Linked DNA regions of Homo sapiens: region 1 is linked to region 2. A link means that fine-mapping ties the variant in region 2 to the expression of a gene that starts in the linked region. Tissue or cell type: whole blood. Region 2 holds a variant in brackets; the other region holds the start of a gene. All regions are shown on one strand. Distances are from middle to middle.

Region 1 (8,099 bases), 95 kb after region 2:
TTTTTCTACAGAAATTAAGTTGAAGGCTAGGCACAGTGGCTCATGCCTGTAATCCCAGCACTTTGGGAGGCTGAGGTGGGTGCATTGCATGAGGCCAGGAGTTCACAACCAGTCTGGCCGACATGGTGAAACCCCATCTCTACTAAAAGTACAAAAATTAACCAGACATGGTGGCACAAGCCTGTAATCCTAGCTACTTGGGAGCCTGAGGCACAAGAATCAGGAGGCGGAGGTTGCAGTGAGCCTAGATCATGCCACTGCACTCCAGCCTGGGTGACAGAGCAAGACCCTGTCTAAAAAAATAAAAATAAAAAAAGTAAAAAATTAACACTAAAACAGTGCATTATATTTGTAATTTCCTGTGGAAGTAAATTGAATTTCCTTATACAAATGCAAATGATGAAAACTATAACGTATTCAATCCTTCCCAGGATTATAGCTACATAAACCCAGGTATAAATTAGTGAATGAAGCTGAGTTCAGTGGCTCATGCCTGTGATCCCAATGCTTTGGGAAGCTAAGGCAGGAGGATCTTTTGAGCCCAGGAGTTTGAGACCAGCCTGGGCAATATGGTGAGACTCCCGTCTCTACCAACAACAACAACAAAAAATAGCTGGGTGTGGTGGTATGTGCCTGTGGTCCCAGCTACTTGGGAGGCTGGGGTTGGGAGGATTGCTTGAGCCCAGGAGGTAGATGCTACAGTGAGCTATGATTGCGCTACTGCACTCCACAGCCTGGGCAGCAGAGTGAGATCCTGTCTCAAATAAAGAAATAAATAAAAAGGAGAAATCAGTGAATGAATTAGCATCATTATATAATAAGTGACTATAAATTAGATCTGTATGTCCATGGTAATAAATAACACAATAATTAAATCATCAGTCTTCTGATGACGAGTACTGGCTCTGGAACCCGATTGCTTGGGTTCCAGTCCTGGCTTTTCAATTTATTAACTGCAGCTCTAGGGCAGGTTTCCTTTTTTTTCTTTTCTTTTTTTTGAAACAGGGTTTCACTCCAACACCCAGGCTAGAGTGTAGTGGTGCAGTCACGGCTCACTGTAGCCTGGACCTCCCTGGGCTCAGGCAATCCTCCCACCTCATCCTCCTGAGTGGCTGGGATTACAGGCACGCACCACCATTCCAGGCTAATTTTTACAATTTTTGTGGAAACAGGGTCTTGCCACGTTGCCTAGGCTGGTCTCAAACTCCTGGGCTCAAGTGATCTGTGTGCCTCTGCCTCCCTCTGTGCCCAGCCTAAGGCAGGTTTCTTAATCTCCCCTAGACTGTTTCTTTAATTGTATACTGGGAAGAGTAATAATAATGCCTCTGGTAGAAGGCTTCTGTCAGAATTTATTGACAAAACCCTTTCAGTGGTTAGCACAGTGACTGGCACATTAAATGTGGCTATTAATTATTGTATATGTATTATTACATATGGATGCTTGTAGCCTATCTCTTGGGTATGAGCCTTGTTTCCACAACTTGATTGCAAGCTTTGAGAGGGCAGGGACCAGCTCACGTAGTCCTCTCATCACCTAGCACAATGTCTTATAAATTTTATAGATCAGTAACGAGATTTAAAACTAAAGGGCAATTTGAGGCTGGATTGATTATAAAGGCCCTTGACTCTCAATTTCCCTAGGCCTGCCCTAAGCCTGTCTCCTACTCCAGTATAGCTGGAGTCCCCTTTGAGCTGTGGCAATGGGAGCTCTTGGCTGCTGCCTACTTGACAGCAGCGAATTCAATCAAATGTTCAGAAAATAGTCAAAGGTCTGAGGCCGTAATGCATGAGAGGTTCCAGACAGTCATGGCATTTAGGAGCTGTTTCTGCTTTTCTTAGGTATTTCTGGCTACTGGGCAGTGTGTAATTTCTTTGTCTCACCTAAGTGAAATAATGTAGAGTATAATTTATGTCCTCTCTCTTTAGCTCCTCATGCCCTGGTGATGAGCTAGCTAGTATTTTCCTTATCAAAGGACCTACTGTCACTGTCTGAACAACTCATCTGCAACAAGCTCGCATTTCACCCATGGTTAACGAACTGATTGGTGTCCTTTAAAAATGCTTTCTAAGTTTTACTCCCTCAATATTTTTTTTTTTACTCAACTGGGCTACTTACAAAAAGAACAAAGTTTAATACTGGTACATATTGAATTCCACCTGCTGTTTGTGAACGCTGAGCACAGCAGCCCTAGGTTTGGCAAGGCTGGATTTCCTTACCCATTGGTGTGACAGTTGCATTGTAATGTGGTATAATCCATAGGTTGAATGCAGGGCTTTGAGAATTTAAAATATTTGCATCTTCACAAGAAATATTTGGAAAGTTTGTATAAGGCCTAGTAAATCCAGTTGTGAGTGAATAGAATTTACCAAACTAAATTCACCTAGCATATGAAAATGTACATAAAACAAAATTAACAGGTAGTTGCTCATACTTAACAAAAAGATATTTAGTGCTTCTCATCACACTCAATTATTTCACATAATATTCTATTGTTTTCTTTCTCCTAAAAAATAATTGTTTTAAGCTCTCAGCTCTTCTCTTTTAATTTGAGCAAACTAAAAATATCTTGAGAATGGCCCATCTCACCTCATCAAAGAAGTTTCCTTTGTATCAAGTTTATTAATTCACTCATCCTTTCCTGATCTTTGATACTGAGACTGCTATAAAAAGGACAATGGATGCTAAAGATAACACGTGAAGTAGGTTTGTTAGACCTTTTTTTTGACCCTTGGTATCTTCAGCTTTCTGAAGGCCAGGTAATGTCTGCATTCTGAATATGTTAGGGGACATATGAATCCATAGGACATATTTTAAGCAGAATTGTATCATTGTTTCCCTTGTTGCTATTTTACTTTCCCAAACCATTGCAGAGCTTTTTGCCAATGACATTTTCTCATCCGCAGCCAGCTCTGCCACTCTTTTGCTATTTCTTCTGTCGACTTCCATTTTAATTTAAAAAATAAATTTATAATTTTTTTAGTTCTGTTTTGTCAATGTATACCTGCAGCCGCACACACATTTGATTATAGCTGCATAGTGTGGAAAATCTTGCAATTAGATTCCAAAATGACAGCCGGTGTAATTTACAAAGTACAAAAGTGTTATGTTAAAGCACTCTCAGCAATAAATAAAAATAGCTTTTTTGGAGGAGGAAATAACTTTGGAGAGAACTAGGCTGGAGGAGGAAGCAATCTACACTCTTAGGAAAGGAAGAGCCACATCTAGGAAAGCATCCGAGGGACAAGGACAACAGAAACACAAGAGGCTCTTGATCTCAGGCAGTCCTCCAAGAGGCACCTGACAGAGGGCAGTTAGGTTGCCTTGATTTGCCAGTTTCTGTCCTGAAAGATACACTGGACCTTTATTTCCCAAGGACTACTCATTCAGCATTGTTGAGCACCTAAATTGTGCTGGAGATCGCACAGGAACTGGGCTTGCGAAAATGAAAATTGCACACAGTTCCTGTCTTCAGGCGCTCACAGAGTTTTTAAAACAGAACATCTTAAGAGGGAGTTATAAGGGGCCCTGTTGCAAAAAGAGAGCAGCAACTAAAATCTTGGAAAAGCCCTCAGGACACCACAGAGGAAGCAAGCTGTGATCACAGAACTTTGAAAGGCTTTTGTATCTTTCGACAATAAATGATCAAGTGAAGTAAATACATTGTCCAGAAGAGAAAGAATTGGGATGGAGGATGAGATTTTATATGGAAGGATTAAAACATATTTAACTGGAGCAGGGACTTACAGGGACAGGCAAGTCAGTAAAGGGCCCAGGTTACAAACGAGTTATAACCGATCAGACCGACGAGCGCCCGCGTGCAGCGCCTCCTGCCGACGCGCGCCTCGCAGCCTTCAGTCAATGCTGACAGCTGTTCTCCAACACCCAGCTAGGGGCGGGAGGGTCCGCCCACTTCTACCAGATTTTGCACACAAAACAGTGGAAAGACCATTCTCATGGCTCCAAGCCGTTTTCTCCCTTCATCGCCTGCAATTTTAGGGCTTTTCGGGGGGTATGACTGCAGGGATTTTAGAGGTTTTTTTCCTCATTCTCTTTTTAAGAGGTGATAAAAAGCATTTAAATTAGCGGCAGGGCGGTTAACACCCGCAGCCCTAGCCTCTCCGCACTTCTCGTCGCTCGTCCGTGTTCACTCCACGCCTGGCCTCGGGTAGGAGCCGCATAGCGCCAACGGTTGCGGGTCGCAACTACTCCCAGGCGGCGCGCCTTGCGCGCCGGGCCTCCCAGGACCGCGGCGAGTTCAGAAGGCGCGGGGAGAGAAGTGAGGTCGAGCAGCGGGCGGCTTTTGACGAACGGCCCTCACAGCCAATGGGAAGCCCGGTCGACTTTCCCGCCCCTGCCAATAGGGAGCAGAACCCGGGCCGGGGGGGGCGCTTCCCGCAGGCTGCGGCTGGATTCGATCCTGCGCGACGGCCGCGAAGGCGGGGGCGGAGGCTCGGCCTGCGCGGCTGGGAGCGGCTTAGGGGAGGAGGGAAGACCGGAAGCCACGGTTGCGTCCCCATCCTTAGATTCGCTCCTCCGGGCAGGGAGCGGAGACGGAGGAGGAGGAGGGAGAGGCTGAATGTTGGCTCGGTAATTGAGAGGAGCGGCCGCTCCAGAGCTTCCTCCCGGGGCGCCCCCCTCAGTCCGTCCGCGCTTCTCAGCCGCCAGTCTCCTGGCCGCGCAGTCCCCGCGGACGGCCGGGCCGCGGAGACCCTCGCAGAAGAGGCGCTGCCGGCGGCGAGGACTGGCCGGCGGCATCCGAGGCGCGCGCCCCACCGCCACCCCCACCCGCCTGCCAGCCGGTCCCTCCGGCCGCCGCCATGTCCTCCTCCTCTTCCTCCCCCAGGGAGACGTACGAGGAGGACCGGGAGTACGAGAGCCAGGCCAAGCGTCTCAAGACCGAGGAGGGGGAGATCGACTACTCGGCCGAGGAAGGCGAGAACCGCCGGGAAGCGACGCCCCGGGGCGGGGGCGATGGCGGCGGCGGCGGCCGGAGCTTCTCTCAGCCGGTAACAAAGCGCGGCCCCCCTGTCCGCTGTGCCTGGCTGCTCCCCGGGAAGCAGGGCCTCGGTGCGGGGCCTCCCGCTTGCTTCAGTTAGCCTTTTCCGCTGCGCCGACCCGTTTGGGGAAGCGCCCACTCTTCTCTTTGGGGCTCGTATTCTGGCCTCTACCTGTTTCCCGCATCCCGACTGCGAACCCGGCGCCGTCCTGGCCGCAGGCCCCGCAGCGAGTCCACTGCCGGGCCCTGAACTTGGGGAGGGTCGCGGCGCGGCGGCGGCGGCGGGGAGGCGTCGCTTCCGCTCTGGGGGGTTTCGCGGCTCGGGGAGCTCTTTGTTAGTTTAACTCCTCGGGCTCGGGGCCAGCGTCGGGACCACCGGTTCTCTTCAGTCCCTCTGCCCGCAGCAGCCGCGCGTTGGTCACCATCCCGGGATGGTTGCGTCGGTTCTACCGGGAGCTCTCTCCGCCTCGGTCCTATGGAGACCCGTAATTAAATAACAGATTATGCCTTGGCGTTCACATGCTAGTTCCCTTGAAGGTTTAATTTAAAAAATTTTAAAATTAAACTCTTTATAAGCATGGCGTGCATCCTTTGCTCTACCCAATTTTGTGGATTACTCAGTACACTTTTTACCTCTTCGGTTACAACACTTCAACAGAAGTGTTGGCAGCTGTTGGTACACCCCTACCTTCAAGTAAAACAAATCTTAAAATTACTAAAGTTTTTCATTGGTAATTTATTCCACATTTGCCCCATGAAAGGATGAAGTGAGCTCAGGGTTGCATTAAACACACATTCCTAGAGCCAGGTCTTTCTCTTACCAGAAATGTTAGGGGGAGGCAGAAGGAATGTGATCATTTTGTCCACAGCAAGTAGTTAGCTTCAGTTGGATGGAGACTTTAAGGAAACAAAGCGGAGCAAACGTTATTGCCCTTTTTTGGTGCACTTAAGCGGTTTTAATGACTTAGATGTTATTTAAACATTTAACACATGAATTGTGATTAATTCTGCAAACTTTAACAGAATTACGAAACTGTACACATATATCCTACTATTAGGTTAAAAGGGTTTTTACCTTACCTTTTAAAAATAAGACGCACATTAGAAGCCCTTTATAGCCGTTTGAATTTTTAAATAATAAAAAAAAAGGCTGGTCAGTCACCCAGCGTTGCAGTTTCCAGTTACCAGGATGTGAGAGCAAACTTTGCAACACATTTAAAAAAGGAACTTTTTCTCTCAGTCTTGTTACGGTGTTAGCTATTACTTTAGATTTTTGTGCCGAGCTATTTGAAATATTCAAAATGTAACTTGGAAGTGTGAATAAAGGAAATGGTTTTTTCTTAGGAAGTTTCAGTTCAAAGCCAACTCTGTTGTGGAAATTGGAAACAGGAATATTATAACTGATATTTCGATGTATTCGATCAGTGTACCTCGTTGCTAGAAATCTTGCTTGGGTTTTTGTGCAGCATCATGAAATGTCTTCAGGCATTTTGGAAAGATACTTAAATCAGATTATAAAAATTTGTTTTTGAAAACAGATAAAGCATTAAATCAATAGTATTATTTTGGATGTTGGGAAGAAAATAACATATAATTAATGTATCCAAAGCGAAATGTGTGGAGCGGTGGAAATGGCACTGAGTAGGGCTTGGGGGTGGTCAAGAGTCTAGGCTTAGCATACAATTTTTTTTTTTTTTTGAGAGGATCTCACTCTATGGCCCGGGGCTGGAGTGCAGCAGCTCTGGAGTGCAGCAGCTCGTGATCACGGCTCACTGCAGCCTTGATCTCCCTGTCTCAAGCGATCCTCCTACCTCAGCCTCCCGGGTTGCTGGGACTGGAAGCCTGCATCACCACGCCGGGCCAATTTTTTTTTTCTGTGTTTTGTAGAGAAGGGGTTTCACCATATTGCCAAAGCTAGTCTCTTAACTCCTGGGCTCAAGAGATCCACCTGAGTTGGCCTCCCAAAGTGCTGGGATTACAGCCGTGAGCCACCGCACCTGGTCTTAGCATACAATTTGTGTGAGTCTGAGAAAGTCAGTTTACTACTCTGAGTTCTCTTAGTCTGTAAAATATGAAGGTTGAAACACATGCCTTTTTTAACCGAAGCTATAGTTAAGTGATTAACGTAATGCTAATGCTGCTTTTAAGTTACCCCGGCGGGAACTGATATAAGCAGATTGAGGTATAAATTTTAATTTTTTTGTTTATCTTACTGCTGATATGTTTCCTAGGAAAGGGTGAATTGTTTTCATTTAACAGTAAAACCATCATTGTACTATGAAATCTAATGAAGCCTTGTTTATCTTGTTTTTAAATATTTTTCATGTAATTTTTGGTACTATTTTGAAATCATGGCAACTATGGAAACCTGTACATAATAAAATTCTATTATTAGGATAGACGTTCCCCGGATAGAAGTTTACTGTCTTGTGCTTCTTCGTTCACATGTTTGGTAATTCATTGTAACCGAAAAGGGTTTTGCACAACTTCAGTGGTCCTTCAGCCCAGAGAAGAAATACCTTTGTGGTCAGACTGTTAAAGTAAATGCAGGTTAGGTACAATGATGGCATTCTTTTCAACTCTAGTTGGAAGTTTGTAAAGTGCAAAGTAAGCCTTTGAAGATTTACATTGCTTGGTTTTTTATGATTAACCTTGAGTGCTTTGATAATATATTGACTACATTTAAAGAGGAAAGTGAGTATTTAAGAAAAACATAGTGGTTCTACAAAGGCTCTTAACTTAGAAATGAATGGATAATTGTGAGTGATCATTATGTTGAAGGTACAAAGAGAAATGAGAGAAGAGTTAATACTTTGGATATGAGAAATAAAACACCCTTCAAATTTGTGTCTTCTGGTACCTTTTTTTAATAGAGCAAAAAACTCCTAGGGTTTTTCACATTCACTGAGCTGCATTGTTGAATAAGGCTTGATTATAGAGGTTCCTGCCACATATTATACAGTTACTTTTTTCTTGTGGAGTAGTGTTCTTAAATTTAATAGGCATGACCTTCAAGATCATATTAAGTTTCTGTATCTTCTTTTAAGAAGGCAGCTTGACTTGGAAATATTAAGGCTTCACTTGGGAAAACCACTTGAGGAA
Region 2 (8,106 bases):
AGAGAGGAGTGTGGAGAGACTGGCTGGGGGCAAAATAAGCAATAGTTAATTCCTAGGATGTATAGGTTGGCTATTACTCAGCTTCATTTTTGTGTTCAGTATAGATTAGTTTTCTAGCTTCAACCCGAAGAGACCAAGCCTGAAGCTCCCTTCTAGCTCCCTACTTTGGATCTGTGACTAAATCCTGATGGATTATCTGAGCAAGCTCTGTGGAGAGGCAGATAGCAGAGACTGGCCACATCATGAATTCTAAATGGCTGATGTCATTACAAAAACCATAAGCAAGAAAGAATCTACAGTTTCCAGAAAGTGGGGGGAAAAGTTTCTAAGGAGAAAGTATGACTCTTGAAGAAGGAGGGTAAGGGTCATGTAGCAAAGAAGAGGTTATTGGGTGGTCTCTGTAGGCTGGGGGTGGGAAAGGGATGCACAGCAGGGTGGGGTGTGAGGGAGGCATGCTCGGAGATCATTTTTGTTTTTGTTTTTTGACCAGTGAAATGTTCAATTTTTTTTTTAAGTTTTAAAATTTTTAAATTTTTATTTTTTTGATCAGTGAAATGAGAGATGGTTTTGGGGAGGCCTGAGAGCCGTCTAAGAGGTTTATTAACCTGGAGATTATCAAAGTAAGATTTGCATTTTAGATAGATGCTTTTACATGGAAGATAGATCTTAAGATTTTTTTTTTTCCAGTTAGGTGTTAGAGTGCAGTTGTCCAGATTATGAATCATTCATTCATTGATCCCACTTTATGAAGCCCATAATATAAGCCAGGCACTAATCTAGACAAGAAAAGATAGTCTAAAGCAGCACAGTGAAAATGGAGATGGAGTTATATAACCAACAATACATACTGAGGAGACAGATTTGAGAAATGCTTAGGAGTTAAAAATCAGTAGGACCTGATGACTAATTAAGGCAGTGGGGAGTGAAATGGAAAGAGTAAGGATACTGACAGATGCTTGAAACAAATATGTCCAATATTTTAGAATTATATAATAAATTTAAAGGAATTTTCTGTCAGGAGCTCCAGAAAGATTAACACCCAAATGCTAATACATAAAGATCAAAACAGCCTTCGTTTGCAACATCTTTGAATGAGGAGACTACTTTGGACTTTGCTATTTCTCCAAGGCAGAGATAGAGACCTGCCCCAGGGAGGTAATTATATCATCTGCCGAATTGTAGGTTTAACCGACAGAGGTTGAAATAAAATACAAAAGTCTTGCTGGGCCTCTCTCCACAGCCTCATGGCAAGCGTTTCCTACCAGAATTCTAATTTTGTCAAAATGGGGTTGCTTTGATGTAATTTTAGAATAAGCTTTTAAAAACTGAGAGCAGCAAGAACAGCAAGTGAACACAGATGGGCTGGGGGACAGAGTGAATTGGGTAAATTTTATAAGAATAAAAAAGAAGAGGGGATTTTACTAATGCTACTTTCAAAGGCAAAAGACCTAGTCAAAGCACTCATTTTTGCTTTCTTAATTCCTTATCTACTACTACAAATAAAGAGCAGCAAAATTATAAGGAAAAAAAAAACTGTGTGCTGTAAATGCCTTTAAAGACACATCCTTAGTAGTGCACTGTATTGTATACATCATAATGTCTTGCTGGGCAGGCTGCCCAGCTCACCTCCTAATTCTACAGTTCTGTGAGGTGAAAGGTGAAATGTAATATTTACAATCCTGAGAATGAATTAATCCCTGGCAAAATAGAAGGATTTGATTTTCTCATCTGCTCACATCTAGCTGGTGTAATACTTAAGCAGGGTACCAGGGATCTGTTTCTACTTGTTGCCACAGGGCAGGGAACTAGAATCAGGTCCTGAAGCTAAATGCCTGACATGTCTCAGACAAATAAAAACTGACAGAATTCATCACCACTAGACCAGCCTTATAAGAAATGCTCAAGGGAGTCCCACATCTGGAAGTGAAATGATAATTACTATCAAGAAAACACAAAAAAGTAGAAAACTCACTGGTAGAGCACATACACAAAGGAGAAAGAGAAAAGAATCAAATTTTACCACTACAGAAAACCACCAATCACAAGGATGAACAATAAGAGGGGAAGAAAGGAACAAAGGATATATTTAAAAAAACAGAAAATAATTAACAAAATGACAGAAGTCCTCACCTATCAATAATAATCTTGAATGTAAACTTATTAAACTTCCCCCCTTAAAATATATAGACTGGCTGAATGGATTAAAAAACATGGCCCAACTACGGTTGCCTACAAGAAACTCACTTCATCTGTAACGACACACATAGACTGAAAGGGTGGAAAAAGATATTCCATGCAAACAGAAACCAAAAGCAAGCAGGGTAGCTGTACTTGTATCAGATGAAACAGACGTCAAGTAAAAAACGATTAAAAAAAAGAAAAAGGTTATTATATAATGATAAAGGGATCAATTCAGTAAGAGGAGGTAACAATTCTAAATATATATGCACCCAACACTGGAGCGCCCAGATACATAATATAAAGCAAATATTATTAGATCTAAAGGGAGACATAGACACCAATACAATAGCTGGGGAATTCAACACCCCATTCTCTGCACTGAACAGATCATCTAGACAGAAAATCAACAACAAAACACTAGATTTAAACTGCACTTTAGGCTGAGCGCGGTGGTTCACATCTGTTATCCTAGTACGTTGGGAGGCTGAGGTGGGCGGATCACTTGAGGCCAGGAGTTTAAAACCAGCCTGGTCAACATGGTAAAACCCTGTCTCTACTAAAAATACAAAAATTAGCTGGGTGTGGTGGCGGGCACCTGTAATCCCAGCTACTTGGCAGGCTGAGGCACGAGAATTGCTTGAACCTGGGAAGTGGAGGTTGCAGTGAGTCAAGATCATGCTACTGCACTCCCAGCCTGGGCAACAGAGTGAGACTCTCTCAAAAAAACAAAAAACCCTGCATTTTAGACTAACAAAGAGACATTTACAGAACATTTCATCCAACAGATTCAGAAAACACATTATTTCATCAGCACAAGAAACATTTTCCAGAATAGACCATATGTTAGCCCACAAAACAAGTCTCAACAAATTTAAAATAATTGAAATTATATCGAGTATCTTTCCTGACCACA[G/A]TGGAATAAAACTAGAACTCAACAGCGAGGTGAACTTTTGAAATTGTACAAATACACAGAAATTAAACAATATGCTCCTGAATGATCAGTGAAGAAAATTTTAAATATTCTTCTCTTTTCTTTTTTAAGATGGTTCTTGCTATGTTGTCCAGGCTGGTCTTGAACTCCTGACCTCAGGTGATCAGTCCACCTCGGCCTCCCAAAGTGCTGGGTTTACAGGCATGAGCCACCGCACACAGCCTAAAGGTTGTTTAATGTTAATAAAAGTACAGCTAGATAGGGGGAATAAGTGCTAGTGCTCTAAAGCACTATAGGGTGACTATAATTAACAACAACTTATTGTATATTTTCAAATAGCTAGAACAGCAGATTTTGAATGTCCCAACACAAAAAAATGATAAATGTTTGAGGTGATGGATATGCTAATTACCCTGATTTGATCCTTATACATTGTAAACATGTATCAAAATATCCCAGTGTACCCTGTAAATATGTATTAGGTATCAATAAAATATGTATTAGATATCAAGTATTAGGTATCAATTAAAAATAATAACAGCTGGGGCCAGGTACGGTGGCTCATGCCTGTAACCCCAGCACTTTGAGAGGCCGAGGTGGGCAGATCACCTAAAGTTAGGAGTTCGAAACCAGCCTGGCCAACATGGTGAAACCCCGTCTCTACTAAAAATACAAAAATTAGCTGGGCATGGTGGTGGGCGTTTGTAATCCCAGCTACTCGGGAGGCTGAGGCAGGAGAATTGCTTGAACCCAGGAGGCGGAGGTTGCAGTGAGCCGAGGATGTGCCATTGCACGCCAGCCTAGGCAACAAGAGCAAAACTCTGTCTCAAAATAATAATAATAATAACAGCTGGACACAGTGGCTCATGCCTGTAATCCCAGCACTTTAGGAGGCCGAGGTGGGAGGATCACTTGAGAGCTCAGGAGTTCAAGATCAGCCTGGGCAACATAGTGAGACCCCATCTCAAAAACAAACAATATATAAACAAATGTCTGACAAAGCAGCACAGGGATCTGGCACTGCAGTGTTCTCTGTCTCTGGACATCCATTATCTACACCCCTGTCCTTTCTGGGAAACAGCTTCAGGGAGTTCTACTTCTGGGAAATTACAGGGACAGCCCTGACAACAATAAACATAGAAAACACATGCCAGAGGGACTCATATGCCCAACAACAGAGTGTGCTCCCATCCTATGGAGCAGCAAATGCTTTATGGGTGTCATTTTTTTCCTTTTTTTTTTTTTAAGTAGCTAAGAATAATTGCTCTGAAGACGCAGAGCTAAATTAACTGCTAACATCCAAACACAGCCTGACAGTGTACCTGCAAACTTTGCTCCTGGTCCATGGGTAAAAGGAGCTCTCAGCCTTGCAGAAACCTTCTGTTGGTGCCACCTGCCATGGGACAGGAAAGAAGCACCTGTGAGCAAGGGCTATGCACTCAATACACCACTGCTGACTCCTAAGTGCCGGAATTTCATCTACAGAGGTAGCTTTAGAAGTTAGGTGATGAATTCTATTCATTTATTTAAAATATATATATAATCCCAGCACTTTGAAAGGCTGAGGTGAGCAGATCACTTGAGGTCAGGAGTTTGAGACCAGCCTGGGCAATATGGTGAAACCCCATCTCTACTAAAAATACAAAAATTAGCTGGCCGTGGTGGTGCGCACCTGTAGTCCCAGCTAATTGGGAGGCTGAAGCAAGAGGATCATTTGAACCCGGAAGGCGGAGGCTGCAGTGGGCCGAGACTGCACCACTGTACTTCCAGCCTGGTGATGGAGTGAGACTCTGTCTAAAAAAAAAAAACCCCAAAACCCAAAATTGCCAACAGGAAGAAGGCAGGAGCAAAACAGGTGCTCATGGCTGCCAAAGATTTGTGGGTCCTGCCTGGGGTAGAGGTCTAAATGCCGGCTCTGCATTGAAGACGTAAGGGAATTTCTTTGTCTTGCTCTTGCTCTGGCTCCCTGTAACTGCATACCATGGTATCTCTTTTCTTTCTAGGTGATAATGCCCCATCCATAAGTGGGTTACTAACAAAATGGAGGACAGGACGTCACTCCTCCCCAAACACCTACAGGGGGAAGGTCCCCTTTTACTGAGCACTGTGGCCACAATTTTAACAGTTACTGCAAAATAAAAGTTGCTACATTCTCATGATGATGTGTTTTCCCATCACCTGAAAAATTATTTACCGAGTGTCTGTAGCCAGGGTGAAAAACACCCCTAAAGTTTAGATATGCATCAGTATTTCCCTCAAGAATAGCACACGTTAAAACTTTTATAAAGAGAAAACAAAAATAAGGAGTTGAAAAACATATAAGTATAAATTAATAGCCACAAAAGGGAGAAGTTAAAGAGAGACTATGAAAACATCTTTGTCTTGCAGAAAGATACAATCTGAGAAGCAACCCTGCAGGACTTGGCTGAAAGTCAACAGGCGGCTGATCAAATGAAGCAATAGAAGCTGTGTAATTTGTCACATCAAGCACCTGCGACAAACCCACGCACAATCCGAGGAATGTAGGTGATCTGACAAAAGGCCTTATGTTTAAAATTTACCCTAAGTTTCCCTAAATCCATCACAAATTTCCCCACATAAGCCACTTTTTCAGACACAGTTTAACTATCTTTTCTTGTGACACTAGGTGCATTTGAAGAGTTCTTGGGGGCCGGGTGCAGTGGCTCATGCCCATAATCCCAGCACTTTGGGAGGCCACAGCAGGTGGATCACTTGAGGTCAGGAGTTCGAGACCATCCTGGCCAACATGGTGAAACCCCCTCTCTACTAAAAATACAAAAATTAGCCGGGCGTGGTGGCATGTGCCTGTAATTCTAGTTACTCGGGAGGCTGAGGCGGGAGGATTGCTTGAACATGGGAGGCAGAGGTTACAGTGAGCTGAGATCGCGCCACTGCACTCCAGCCTGGTTGACAGAGCAAGACTCTGTCTCAAAAAAAAAAAAAAAAAAAAAAAAAAGCTTTCTTGGGGGTAGGTGCGGTGGCTCACGCCTGTAATCCTAGCACTTTGGGATGCTAAAGTGGAAGGATGGCTTGAGGCAGGGAGTTTGAGACCAGCCTGGGCAACATAGTGAGACATCATCTCTGCCAAAAAAGAAAAAAAAATCCATGTTGAGACATTTTCGTGTAAAAAAAGAAAAAATTACCTGGGTATGGTGATGTGCACCTGTAATCCTAGCTATTTGGAAGGCGGAGCCAGGAGGATTGCTTGAGCCCCAGAAGTTTGATGTTACAGTGAGCTATGATTGTGTCACTGTTTCAGCTTGGGCAACAGAAAGAGACCCTGTCTCAAAAAAAAAAAAAAAAAGAAAAGAAAAAGAAAAGCTGGACACAGTGGCTCATGCCTGTGATCCCAGCACTTTGGGAGGCTAAGGCAGGTGGATCACCTGAGGTCAGGAGTTCAAGACCAGCCTGACCAACATGGTGAAACCCCATCTCTACTAAAAATACAAAATTAGCCAGGTGTGGTGGCACATGCCTGTAATCCCAGCTACTTGGGAGGCCAAGGCAGGAGAATCGCTTGAACCCGGGAGGTGGAGGTTGCAGTGAGCTGAGATCACGCCATTGCACTCCAGCCTGGGCAACAAGAGCGAAACTCTGTCTCAAAAGAAAAAAAAAAATCTCTACACTTTTTTTACTGTTATAGTGACAATAATAGAGGCTTTTCTCTCCAGGAGCTCTAAGTGAAATTAATGAGAAATCTCATGACCCTAAGAAGAGAGATTTAAAAAACAAACACGCAGGCGGGGTGTGGTGGCTCACACCTGTAATCCCAGCACTTCGGGAGGCTAAGGCGGGTGGATCACTTGAGGTCAGGAGTTCAAGATCAGCCTGGTCAACATGGTGAAACCCCATTTCTACTAAAAATACAAAAATTATCCGGGTATGGTGGCATGCGCGCCTGTAGTCCCAGCTACTCAGGAGGCAGAGGCAGGAGAAGCACTTGAACCCGGGAGGTGGAGGTTGCTGCAGAGAGCTGAGATCGAGCCACTGCACTCCAGCCTGGGCAACAGAGTGAGACTCCGTCTCAAAAAACAAACAAGCAAACAAACAAGCAAACAAACAAAACCACACACACATAAACAAGGATTTGGGGTGGAAAGCAGAGGACTAGGATGGTAAGCAAAATAACTGATTTACGCAGTAAAAGTCATTCATATGCAAAAAGGCCAAAGCTGTTTTAGAGAAGTTTTCTACTGTTGATTTCTGAGGGTTTCAGCACAACCAAGCAGCCACCCCAGGAAAAGCCAGGTAGAGCAAAGGGTCTAAAACGAACTCATTATCCAGCATCTCCCCAGGATAAATGAAGTACCCACCATAAGGGACTGCTCCAGATAGCTGAACGCCACCCTGTAAATGGTACAGCTTTTCTTTAACTGTGTCTGTAAGTTTGCTTTCTTTTTTTGAAACTTTATTTATTTATTTATTTAATTTATTTATTTTGAGACTGGGCTGTGAGATTGGCTAATTTTTGTATTTTTGGTAGAGATGGGGTTTCACTGTGTTGCCAAGGCTGGTCTCAAAGTCTTGGGCTCAAAAATCCAACCGCCTCCACCTCCTGAAGTGCTGGGATTACAAGCATGAGACACTGCACCCGGCCTGTTTGTAAATTTTCTACCGAAGGTGATTTTTCTATCATTTTCAACAGAGATGACCAACATACATACTTAAAGAATGTGAACTTTCAACACAACTTGTTCATAACAAGATTCTGCATATGAGAAAACCAAGAACCAGAAAGACAAGGGATCTGTCAGGAACACCATATGCTGCAACAGAACAATGACACCTGAGGTGACTTTCCCTTGACTTTCCCTTTCTTTTTTTGTTTTTTTTTTTTTTTTGAGACGGAGTCTTGCTCTGTTGCCCAGGCTGGAGTGTAGTGGCCCGATCTTGGCTCACTGCAACCTCCACCTCCCGGGTTCACGCCATTCTCCTGCCTCAGCCTGCCGAGTAGCTGGGACTATAGGCGCCTG

Evidence for each region. PIP is the estimated chance that this variant, and not a neighbour inherited with it, causes the effect.
Region 1: HNRNPLL starts here. The variant in region 2 is fine-mapped to the expression of HNRNPLL in whole blood (INTERVAL, PIP above 0.99).

The regions. Positions count from the first base shown.
Region 1 is chr2:38,599,346-38,607,444 of GRCh38, reverse strand. It overlaps HNRNPLL (heterogeneous nuclear ribonucleoprotein L like), which reads left to right and starts at 4,517. Exons shown (of 13, transcript NM_138394.4): 1 at 4,517-5,007. The coding sequence starts at 4,819. RefSeq lists silencers at 4,338-4,407, 4,628-4,677, 4,698-4,797.
Region 2 is chr2:38,694,765-38,702,870 of GRCh38, reverse strand. The region is part of intron 4 of GALM (galactose mutarotase); the gene reads right to left. It overlaps LOC124905993 (a long non-coding RNA gene), which reads left to right. Exons shown (of 3, transcript XR_007086292.1): 2 at 5,501-5,634. Among named protein-coding and RNA genes, the nearest start is that of GALM, 33 kb to the right of the region's middle. The variant G/A (reference allele first, on the strand shown) is at 3,095.